Linked DNA regions of Homo sapiens. The protein of the gene in region 2 purifies or fractionates together with the protein of the main gene of each other region. This does not show direct contact. Each region holds a gene or a part of one and is shown on either strand. Other genes may lie near its edges. The genes, in order: MAP3K7, TRAF3IP2 and ELAVL1.

Evidence for each region.
Region 1: the proteins of TRAF3IP2 (region 2) and MAP3K7 purify together in Homo sapiens (affinity purification with western blotting, with the first as the bait; one study listed by BioGRID). This does not show direct contact.
Region 3: the proteins of TRAF3IP2 (region 2) and ELAVL1 purify together in Homo sapiens (affinity purification with western blotting; one study listed by BioGRID). This does not show direct contact.

What each region holds. Positions count from the first base shown.
Region 1 is NC_000006.12:90,545,475-90,549,129, reverse strand, and holds part of MAP3K7 (mitogen-activated protein kinase kinase kinase 7), read left to right. Parts: intron 1-952; coding exon 953-1,083; intron 1,084-1,742; coding exon 1,743-1,872; intron 1,873-3,655. UniProt on the Homo sapiens protein: Serine/threonine kinase which acts as an essential component of the MAP kinase signal transduction pathway. Plays an important role in the cascades of cellular responses evoked by changes in the environment.
Region 2 is NC_000006.12:111,557,741-111,560,894, forward strand, and holds part of TRAF3IP2 (E3 ubiquitin ligase TRAF3IP2), read right to left. Parts: intron 1,812-3,154; coding exon 1,665-1,811; 3' UTR 1-1,664. UniProt on the Homo sapiens protein: E3 ubiquitin ligase that catalyzes 'Lys-63'-linked polyubiquitination of target protein, enhancing protein-protein interaction and cell signaling. Transfers ubiquitin from E2 ubiquitin-conjugating enzyme UBE2V1-UBE2N to substrate protein.
Region 3 is NC_000019.10:7,995,566-7,999,220, forward strand, and holds part of ELAVL1 (ELAV-like protein 1), read right to left. Parts: intron 1-3,655. UniProt on the Homo sapiens protein: RNA-binding protein that binds to the 3'-UTR region of mRNAs and increases their stability.

The DNA.
Region 1 (3,655 bases), about 21 Mb from region 2:
TGTGCATTATATCCCATCTGCTCCTCTGAGCAATTCTCCCCTGTCTCTTGCATCATCAGTTTTAGCTTTCTACTGGATCATTCCTAAAACATACGTAGTCTGTATTTGCATTCACTAGCTTCTCTTTTCCCCTTCTTTCTTGAGCTGACTCCATTCAGACGTATTATGCCAGTACTTCAGAATTGTTCTTGTCAAGGTCACTAGTTATCTCTACATCACTACATTTAAGGAATCATTTTCATTTCTCATCTTGACTCTCAGTAGCACTTGACCTAATTCATTACTTTCTCCTTCTTACAGACAGCACTTTCTTCAGTTGGCCTCCGAGATACCATACTAGCCTAGATTCCATCTTACATCTCTGGCCGTCTGTTCTCAGTTTTCTTTGCTGGTTATTCCTCATCTCCCCAACCTAGAAATGTTGGAGTGCCCAGGGCCTGCTCATTTGGCTTCTTCACTTATCTGTCTGCACTCATTTCCTTGGTAACCTCATTCATTATTATGGCCTTATATACCATCTGTTGGCTCATAATGTTTTCCATCTTATACCTGAACTCTATACTCATATATCCAACTATTTCCTTTACATCTACTAGAAACTCAAACTTAATATTTTCCAAACTGAGTTCCTGATACTTCCTTCAAACTCACTCTTCCTTTAGTCTTTCCGCATCTCAATTAATAGCCCTCAGTTCTTCTACTAGCTCAGGTTAAAAACCTTAAGTTATTCTTGACTATTAGAAGACTATTTAGGCATCTTGGTTCCTTTTTTGTGCTATCCTTAAGTTTCTCTTAAAATGGGTTTGTTTGGATATCTTCATTAGCTTGAAAAGTCTTATTTTATTTCTGTTCCTGCCTGGCTAGTTTATAAAAGAATGTAAGTTACATAATACCAAGTGAAGCATTTGTATTATTTCCAGCCATTAGTCATAAATGTTTCTGCTTTTCCTAGGCTCATTCATGGACATTGCTTCTACAAATACGAGTAACAAAAGTGACACTAATATGGAGCAAGTTCCTGCCACAAATGATACTATTAAGCGCTTAGAATCAAAATTGTTGAAAAATCAGGCAAAGCAACAGGTTTGTTATGTTATTACAAGTAAAACTGGTAACCTTACCAGTAGTCACAATATTATACTAACTGAAATTAATTATTTACCATCTTCTATTTTATAAATCCTGAATTTTCTTCCTGAAACATGCAAAAGAGCTTACAAATAGAGACACGTAATGAGATTCTCCTACCATTTATTACCAAATGGTTTTTCCTTCTAATGATTGCTACCTTTGCCAATTCTAAATCCCTATCTATAATAATCCCTAAATGTAATGGTTGATGGTTAAAAATGTAAAATGGGTATATTTTGGCTGCGCTGCCCAGTTAGAGGAGTTGTTCTAAGTCTATCATTTCATGCTGTTCAGATTTATTATATTTTTGCCATTGTTGATTTTTAAAAATATTTCAAGGAGTGAGTTTATTCATTTTGCCTGAGGCATTTAGGTTAACGAATAATTGGGGCTTTTAGCTCCCAGTTCTAGTGACTGCCTTTTCATAAAGACAGTATCTGCAGCTTGCTTTCCCTTACCCCTGTAGCTCCCTCTCGTACAAACTTCCCTCTCCTTTCAGAGCAGAACAGGATCTATCAGAATCCCATTTGCCATCTTCCTCCTTTTAGGTTGCCTAAGATTGCTAAATCTAAAGAACTTCAGTAATTCAGATTGACCTGTAATTTTAACAGAGTGAATCTGGACGTTTAAGCTTGGGAGCCTCCCGTGGGAGCAGTGTGGAGAGCTTGCCCCCAACCTCTGAGGGCAAGAGGATGAGTGCTGACATGTCTGAAATAGAAGCTAGGATCGCCGCAACCACAGGTAAAAAGGAACTACAAGTCTGAAGAGTGAAAATGTATATAAGCCTTTTTGGCCATGGTAGTTTCAGTTGTCAAAGGTTTTTTGTGTGTGTCTTATATTTTTTTTTAAATAGGAAGTAGGTTTACAATATATTTTTCTAAGTTACTAGCAATAGTTTATGCATTTATCTCAAATTCCAAATAAGGAAGGTATGACTTGTAAAATTATTTGGATGAGAAAGTATGCCTTCCTCATTTACAGATTTTATCAAATGTAATTCTTTCTGCTCAAACATGAGTTGAAAGTCTAAGTGAGAAATTGAAATTCTGCCAAAACCAGAATATTTTGGGGATTTTCAGTGATACTACTAGATTTTTGTGCTGAACTCAAATAATAGCAAATATTTTGTTTCAAATTTAACAGAAAAATGTATTCCAGATCCATGTATGATTTGACCTTCTATCTGCTTCTTCATTCCAGTGACAAAATAATAGCTAAGCTGGTTGTGGTTAATTTTTTTAATTGTAAAATAAAATATCATAATTTTATTAGATCTTGAAAAAGCTAGCATTTAAATTCCATTGTTCAGTTCTTAAAATTATTAATCATGGAAGAACTGGTCAGCACAAAAACAATTACATGTTTTGTTACTTAAGTAAACTGACAACCTAATTCTGTGACCAGGTTTCATTTTAGTAATGCTGGTTTAATTTGGACGTTTTTGGTTTTTTGCTGATTCTTTCCAGGGATCAGGGGGAGCTGATTTTAAAAGTAAACACGTTTCTGTTGTGGAAAATGTGGAAATGTAAACAAGCCAAAAAAACTTACATAATTACCCCACTCAGAGATAAACACTTAACATTTTTGTGTATTTACCCCATCTTTTAACTATGTATGTGTATAAATGTATATATTCATGTGTATTTGCATCTTTTTTAACTTAGCTAACCAATTTTTTAGGTCTTTTTTTCACTTATTTGGTTTTTTTCTAAATAGAATATTCTCATTGTGTGTGGAGCTCTTTTCAGAAAGAAGTTGTCAAGATGGACCATCATACTATACTTGTCTTCAACTAATCATGATCATTGATTTTATCAGCTACTATTAGAATCCATTAGATATAACAGAATATCCGAAATAACAGTGTCTATAACACATAAGCATTATTTTTCACATATAAACAAGTCTGGAGGTAGTGGGCTCTGTGATCTTGAAGTAACTGGTCTCCTATTTCTGTGCTGTAATCCCTACTGTATAGCTTCCATTCTCAAAGTTATCCTGTGCTCCAAAATGGCTGTTGAAGTTCCATTTCATCACTTCTACATTCCAGGCAATAGGAAGGAAGACATGGGGGCAGGGCAAATAGACATCCAAGTTCTTTGAAGGAACATTCCCAGATGCCTCTCTTAACAACATCCACACATCATTGGTCAAAGTAACATGGTCGAATGGCTACACGTAGCTCCAAGGGAAGAGGAGATCTGCCCTCTTTTATCTGATGACTTTTCTGTCCTAAATAAAATCAGAGTACTATTGCTAAAACAGAAGGGAAGAGTGGAAACTGGCAGAAGATAGCTGTGTCTGCCACAGATGGGTCTTCAGAAACTATCAAGTTGAGTAGAAGTCACCAGCCACTGACAAGCCCATGAGTCTCCATGAGTCACAAGTATTTCTTTGGAGCAGGGTTGTCTCACTGTAGTGTCAGATGAACCCTACTCACCGGGACATACCCTCATGCTTTGAGGAACCCTTTTCACTTCAGGGATGTTGTTCAGGATAGATCTGCCACATACTAATTGCTGTC
Region 2 (3,154 bases):
TTGGCTGGGTGTGGTGGCTCACACCTGTAATCCCAGCACTTTGGGAGGCCGAGGTGGGCGGATCACAAGGTCAGGAGTTCGAGACCAGTCTGGCCAATATGAAACCCTGTCTCTACTAAAAATACAAAAATTAGCTGGGCATGGTGGCAGGCGCCTATAGGTCTAGCTACTTGGGAGGTTGAGGCAGAAGAATCACTTGAACCCAGGAGGCGCAGGTTGCAGTGAGCCAAGATTGCAGCACTGCACTCCAGCCTGGACGACAGAGCGAGACTCTGTCTCAAACAAAAAAAAAGAAGAAGAAAATGTCTCTGTTAAGAAAATGTAAATTTGTCCTCTGAGAGACATAATTATGAAAATGAAAACTCAGTCACTCCTCAAAAGAGTATTTAGAATTTAGGTCCTAGACTTCAAATCTTTTAGAGTGATTAGAGATGCTTTTGTCCATGTCATTTTATAAATGAGTCCCTGGAATCTAAGAAAAGTTAAAGGACTTGCTAAAGGTCATACAGCTAATTGGTGGTAGAACCAAAATTAGAACACAGACTACAATTCTAGCCTACATCCCCCAACACTTCATACACATATGCAAATATTTTTACCTATGTAGTCAGATCCTGAGAACCATAATCATACTATTTAGAATCATGGCTGTATGCTATATAAAGTTGTTTTGTTAAAAATGGGTGTTTTTATTTGTTTGTTTGTTTTTTGAGACGGAGTCTCGCTCTGTCTCCCAAGCTAGAGTGCAGTGACATGATCTCGGCTCACTGCAACCTCTGCCTCCCGGGTTCAAGTGATTCTCCTGCCTCAGCCTCCCGAGTAGCTGGGATTACAGGTGCACACCACCATGCCCGGCTAACTTTTTTGTAATTTTAGCAGAGATGGGGTTTCACCATGTTGGCCAGGCTGGTCTCAAACTCCTGACCTCAAATGATCTGCCTGCCTTAGCTTCCCAAAGTGCTGGGATTACAGGTGTGAGTCACTGCGCCCAGCCTAAAAATCTTTATTGCAAGAATAAAGCTTCCATGATTATGGTTAAAAAGGGTTGTTTAACTAGCTGGCTTTAATCCATTAATACAGAGTGGTCTGTTATATTTATCTAATATTATATCTAAGCAGCTTTGTTGATGTCCCTGGAAGCAACTGCCCATATCATTATAAATTATATGTATCTCCTTTGAGATAAGTAAAACATAATCTTACAAAAGAGTAAACATTTTATTATTTGTACATGAATCAGTTTGGTCTGAGGATACACAAGCATCTGGCTAACTCATAAAAGTAGCCTGAAGTGATTGATAGGAGAGTGTTTGTAGTCATTTCCATTTGCTGCCACATCCCTTACATTATCTACTTGCTAAGCACTGAGAGGCCCAGAATGGACACATCAAACTGTCAGGAGGAACATATGGGACACTGGCACCTGCAATGGTTTTTTTAAAAGCAGAGAATGCAGAGCAGTCACAGACTCCACTTCAAAGCCAGGGTGTGTGGAGGTCTCCGGGGAAGAGCTCTGCACAACAGGTTTCCTGGGGGCCAGAGGGCCTCTCGGGGAGGAACAGAAAAAAACCAGCCAGGAGTGCTACCGACCAGCCTCAGCCAGAATGCTGTCAGAACAAGGCCCCAAACATGGCCTGGCCTCAGTGATCTGGGGATGAACGGTGTCACAAGGGAACCACCTGAAGGGTGGGCAGAGGCCCCCGTGGAGGAGCCACATACTCTTCCTCTCTCAGCAGCCGCAGCAGGATGTTTTTTTTATTCTTGGGCCAGCTGTAGACATGAGTGTTCTGAAGCCAGGTGGGCACATGCTCCTATGGGAGGCAGAATGACAGGAGCAAAGGTCATTAGAGAAAAACCTGGATGCCAGATCCCAGGCTCAGTTCCCAAACATTTCTGGCTTTCCCTACATGGGCGTTTCCTACCAAACTATCCTGGGAGTTGTGCTGTTTTGCTTTTGGAAAGGTTTAGCATGTGAAATGTTCTTGGCTTCGGGTACAAGCTGTATATCTCATTATAAAAACCACATGTGCACAGCATTTTCTGTCAGTCTCCCAGACTACCTACCCTTTGCATTTCAACTTGCTTTTCACCACCCTCACATAAAAGGGGTAGGACAGAGGTCACACAGAGTGATGTGAATTCCCCTGTGACTTCAGAAGAAGTATGCCAGGGCCGTAGGCTTAAATCAATTCATTACTCTTTCACTCCAGCCCCAGGTCTGGCCTGCAGTAGAAGGAGCCCATCAGACCTCAGTGATCAGGCAGAGGCAGAAACTGTTAGCCAGGGATCCTGGGGGTGCAGTGTCAGACTGCCCTCATGGAGTGGATGTTCTGGTGGGGAGAGGCAGATAATAAGTAAATGGATAGTGTGTTCAACAGTGATGTATGCTGTGGAGAAGAATTAAACAAGAAAGGGGACAGGGAGTGCTGGGGCAAGGGTGAAAGATTTGCAGTTTTAAACGGGGTGCTTAGGAGAGGTCTCACTGAGAAAATGAGCAAAGACCTAAAAGAGTGGAAGAAGCAAGCTCTGTGGTTGTCTGGGTCCAGGCAGATAGGAGAGTCAGTGCGAAGGCCCTGTGGAGGGAGTGTGTTGGGTCTGTTCACAAGCAACAAGGCCACTGTGAGTAGAGCAGAGTGAGTAGGTGCAGAGGTCTGGAAGTAGAAGGGGCTGTATCGGATAGTGCCCTGTAGGCCACCATAAGGCCTTTGCTTTTGAGTCTAACTCCTAGGGACTATAGGACGGGACTTCTCTAGGTATTGTGCTTAGAAGCAGCACCTGCTGCATGGCAGGCATCATACTGAGTACTGAGGATGCCCAAATGAAAAGGACGCAGGGACTGCCTTGAGGACTTCAAATCTTAGGATGAAAGCAAAATGTCAACAAATGATTTTCTAGTCAATGGTGTACCAAGGGGACAGGTGGTGAGAGCGGCCTGTGCTGGGCTCAGGTAATACGGGCATTGTCTGAAGGAGATTTAAAAATAATAACAAAACCAATGAAAATTTGGTCTATTTTGTATATCGCCATGCTCCAATAATTCTCAACAATTATTCCCAGTACCCTCAACCCAAACACATACCATTGACCCAAGGTGCTAGAATTAAGCACCCTTAAGAAAGGGACAATGAAATATATCAGCATGAAGGTAAAGAGG
Region 3 (3,655 bases), on a different chromosome or scaffold from region 2:
CTGTCTATAGATAGTTTTGTACTACAATAACACAGTTAAGTAGTAGCAACCGTATGGCCAAAAAAGCTGAGAATATTTACCATCTGGCTCTTCACACAAAAAAAATCTGCCGACCTCTGTTTTAAAATGTAAAAACATAAAATTTCTTGGAGAAAAATCTTTGTGGCATTGGGCTGGGGAAAGATTTCTCAGACACAACACCAAAAGCCCACTTCGTTAAAAAAAAAAAAAAATGGATAAACTGGATATCATCAAAATTTGAAACTTTTGCTCTGTGAAAGATACTGCTAGGAGAATTAAAATCCACCAACTGGAGTAAACATTTGCAAAAGGGACTTGTAGTCAGAACACTTTTTTTTTTTTTTGAGTCAAAGTCTCACTCCACTGCCCAGGCTGAAGTGCAATGCCATAATCATAGCTCACTGCAGCCACAAACTCTTGGGTTCAAGCAATCCTCCTGCCTCAGCCTTCTGGCTAATTTTTTATTTTTTGTCGAGATAGGGTCTCACTATGTTGCCCACGCTGGTCTTGAATTCCTGGTGTCAAGTGATCCTCCCATCTTGGCCTCTCAAAGTATTAGAATTATAGGCGTAAGCCACCTCACCCAACCCAGAACCCTTTTTTTTTTTTTTTTGAAATGGAGTCTTGCTCTGTCACCCAGGCTGGAGTGCAGTGGCATGATCTCCGCTCACTGCAAGCTCCACCTCCCGGGTTCATGCCATTCTCCTGCCTCAGCCTCCCAAGTAGCTGGGACTACAGGCGCCCGCCACCATGCCCAGCTAATTTTTTGTATTTTTAGTAGAGACGGGGTTTCACCGTGTTAGCCAGGATGGTCTCCATCTCCTGACCTCGTGATCTGCCCATCTGCCCACCTCGGCCTCCCAAAGTGCTGGGATTACAGGCGTGAGCCACCACGCCTGGCCCAGAACACTTTTTTTTAAGCTCTCAAAACAGAAGCAGGCTAGTGTGCTGGCTCATGCCTGGAATTCCAGCACTTTGGGAGGCCGAGGTGGGTGGATCACCTGAGGTCAGGAGTTTGAGACCAGTCCGGCCAACATGGTGAAACCCCATCTCTACAAAAATACAACAAAAAAAAAATTAGCAAGGCGTGGTGGTGGGCATCTGTAATCTCAGTTACTGGGGAGGCTGAGGCAGGAGAATCGCTTGAACCTGGGAGGCAGAGGTTGCAATGAGCCGAGATGGCGCCACTGTACTCCAAACTGGGCGATAGGGCCAGACTCCATCTCCAAAAACCAAAAACAACATAATGAGCAAACAACCTGGTTTCAAAAATGGCAAAAGATTTGAACAGATACTATACCAAAGAATATATATGGATGGCAGACAGGCACATGAAAAGATGCTCAACATCATTAGTCAAATTAAAACCACATCGAGACACCGCTACCCACTTATTAGAATGGCTAAAGCAAAATAAAACAAAAAACAACCAACAGCAACAAAACAGACAATGTCAAGTGCTGGCAGGGATGTGGAGAAGCCAGAATATTCATGCACTGCTGGTGGGAATGCAAAAATGTGAAATGTGACAGCCACTTTGGAAAACAGATTGGCAGTTTCTTATGGTGAAATATACACTTAGCATGGGATCCAGCAATCCTACTCCTAGTATTAAGGCAATAGAAAGGAAAATCTATATTCACACAAAAATCTGTATATAAATGTGCAGAGCGGCATTATTCATAATCATCCAAAACTACAACAACCCAAATATTCTTCAAGCCATTCATGGATAAACTGGGATACACCATACAACAGAATACCACCTGGCAATAAAAGGTATCACCAATTCATGCTACTTGTGTGAATCTCAAACACATCTTGCCACATCATTTCTGTGCCTTCCTGGAAAAGGCAAAACCATAGGGATGGATCTGTGGTCGCTGGGGTTAGGGAGTGAGGGGAAAAGTCGATTACACAGGGACAGGAGGAGGGAGTATTTCTGTTTGTGGGAGAGCGAACTTTCCAATCTTTATTATGGTGGTAATCAAACAACTTTATCCGTTTGTCAAAACTCAGAGAACTCTACTCGAAAAAATGAATTTTCCTACATGCAAATTTAAAAATAAATTGTCTGAGTGTGGCGACTCATGCCTTTAATCCCAGCGCTTTCAGAGGCCAAGGTGGGAGGACTGCTTAAGCCTGGAGTTCAAGACCAGCCTGGGCAGCACAGAGAGATGCCATCATTACAAAAAAAAAAAAAATTAAAAATTACCCAGGAATGGTGATGCACACCTGTATGCAATCCCAGCTAATCGGGGGGCTCAGCTGGGAGGATCACTAGAGCCTGGGAGGTCAATACTGCAGTTAGCTATGATTGTGCCACTGCAGTCCAGCGTGGGCGACAGAGTGAGATCCTGCCTCAAAAACAACAACAAAACCACAATAAAAATAAATTTTAAAAGGTTTAAAAAGAGAACTTCTGCTTTGCGGCCCTGTTCCTCCTGACACTCTGAGTCAAGGCTGAGCAGCCCCTGCAGGTCAAGTTCTTGGTCAACTAGTAACACGGGAGAAACCAACAACCTGCCCTGCAAAGCAGTTTCATGACGTTTCTGGGCCCCCACCCCACTCTCTGGAGGCCCTTCCCTTGACCTTCTCCAAATCTGCATCATCAATCCTGGGCCAAATCAGCTTCTATCCCACAAGCTCCAACCACAACTGGGCCTTGTCACCACTCAATTATCACTGACTCCCAAGTCGTAGCCACTTCTGTCTCTCGAGGTGCAAGGCCTGCACTGTCCTGCAATCAAGATGCTCACCCCTCTGGTATTCCCTGTCAGTGGTCACCACCCATTGAGGCTCGGCGGTCACACGATGATGCTCACGGTCAGGCATGCCATTAATAAGTGGCAGGGCCAGGCCTCAAGTTGTCATGACAATGCAACTGTCAAACTGGCAAGGCCCTTCACAATCGGACCCAGGTGGTTCTCCAGCCTCAGTCGCCACCCTCCCTTCCCGCTCACTCCAGCTTCTTGCCAATATGCTACAGGCCTCTGCTTTGGCTGTTCCCTCTGCAGGGCACTAGTGTCCTCTCCTTCACTTCCCAGCTCATTTTTTAAAATTAGTATTTTTTTTTAAAGAGATGGGGGTCTCTCTTTGTTGCCCAGGCTGGTCTTGAACTCCCAAGCTCAAGTGATCCTCCTACTTTGGCCTCCCAAAGTGCTGGAATTGCAGGTGTGAGCCACCATGCCTGGCCTCCCAGCTCACTTCTATTTTTACTTATTTTTCTTTTGAGAAAGGGTCTTGCTCTGCTGCCAAACTAGAGTGCAGTGGCATAATCACGGCTCACTGCAGCCTCAAACTGCCTCAGTTTCCCAAGTAGCTGGGACTACTGGTGTGTGCCACCATACCTGGCTGATTTTTAAATTTTTTTAGAGACAGGGGTCTCATTTTGTTGCCCATGCTGGCTTCAAGTCATCCTCCCACCTGGGCCTCCCAAAGTGCTGGGATTATAGGTGAGAGCCACTACACCAGGCTGGCTCATCTTTAAAAAGCTACCTTCCTGGCCTGGCGTGGTGGCTTATGCCTGTAATCCCAGCAATGTGGGAGGCCGAGGTAGGCGGATCACCTGAGGTCAGGAGTTTGAGACCAGCATGGCCAACATAGTGAAACCCTGTCTATACTGAAAATACAA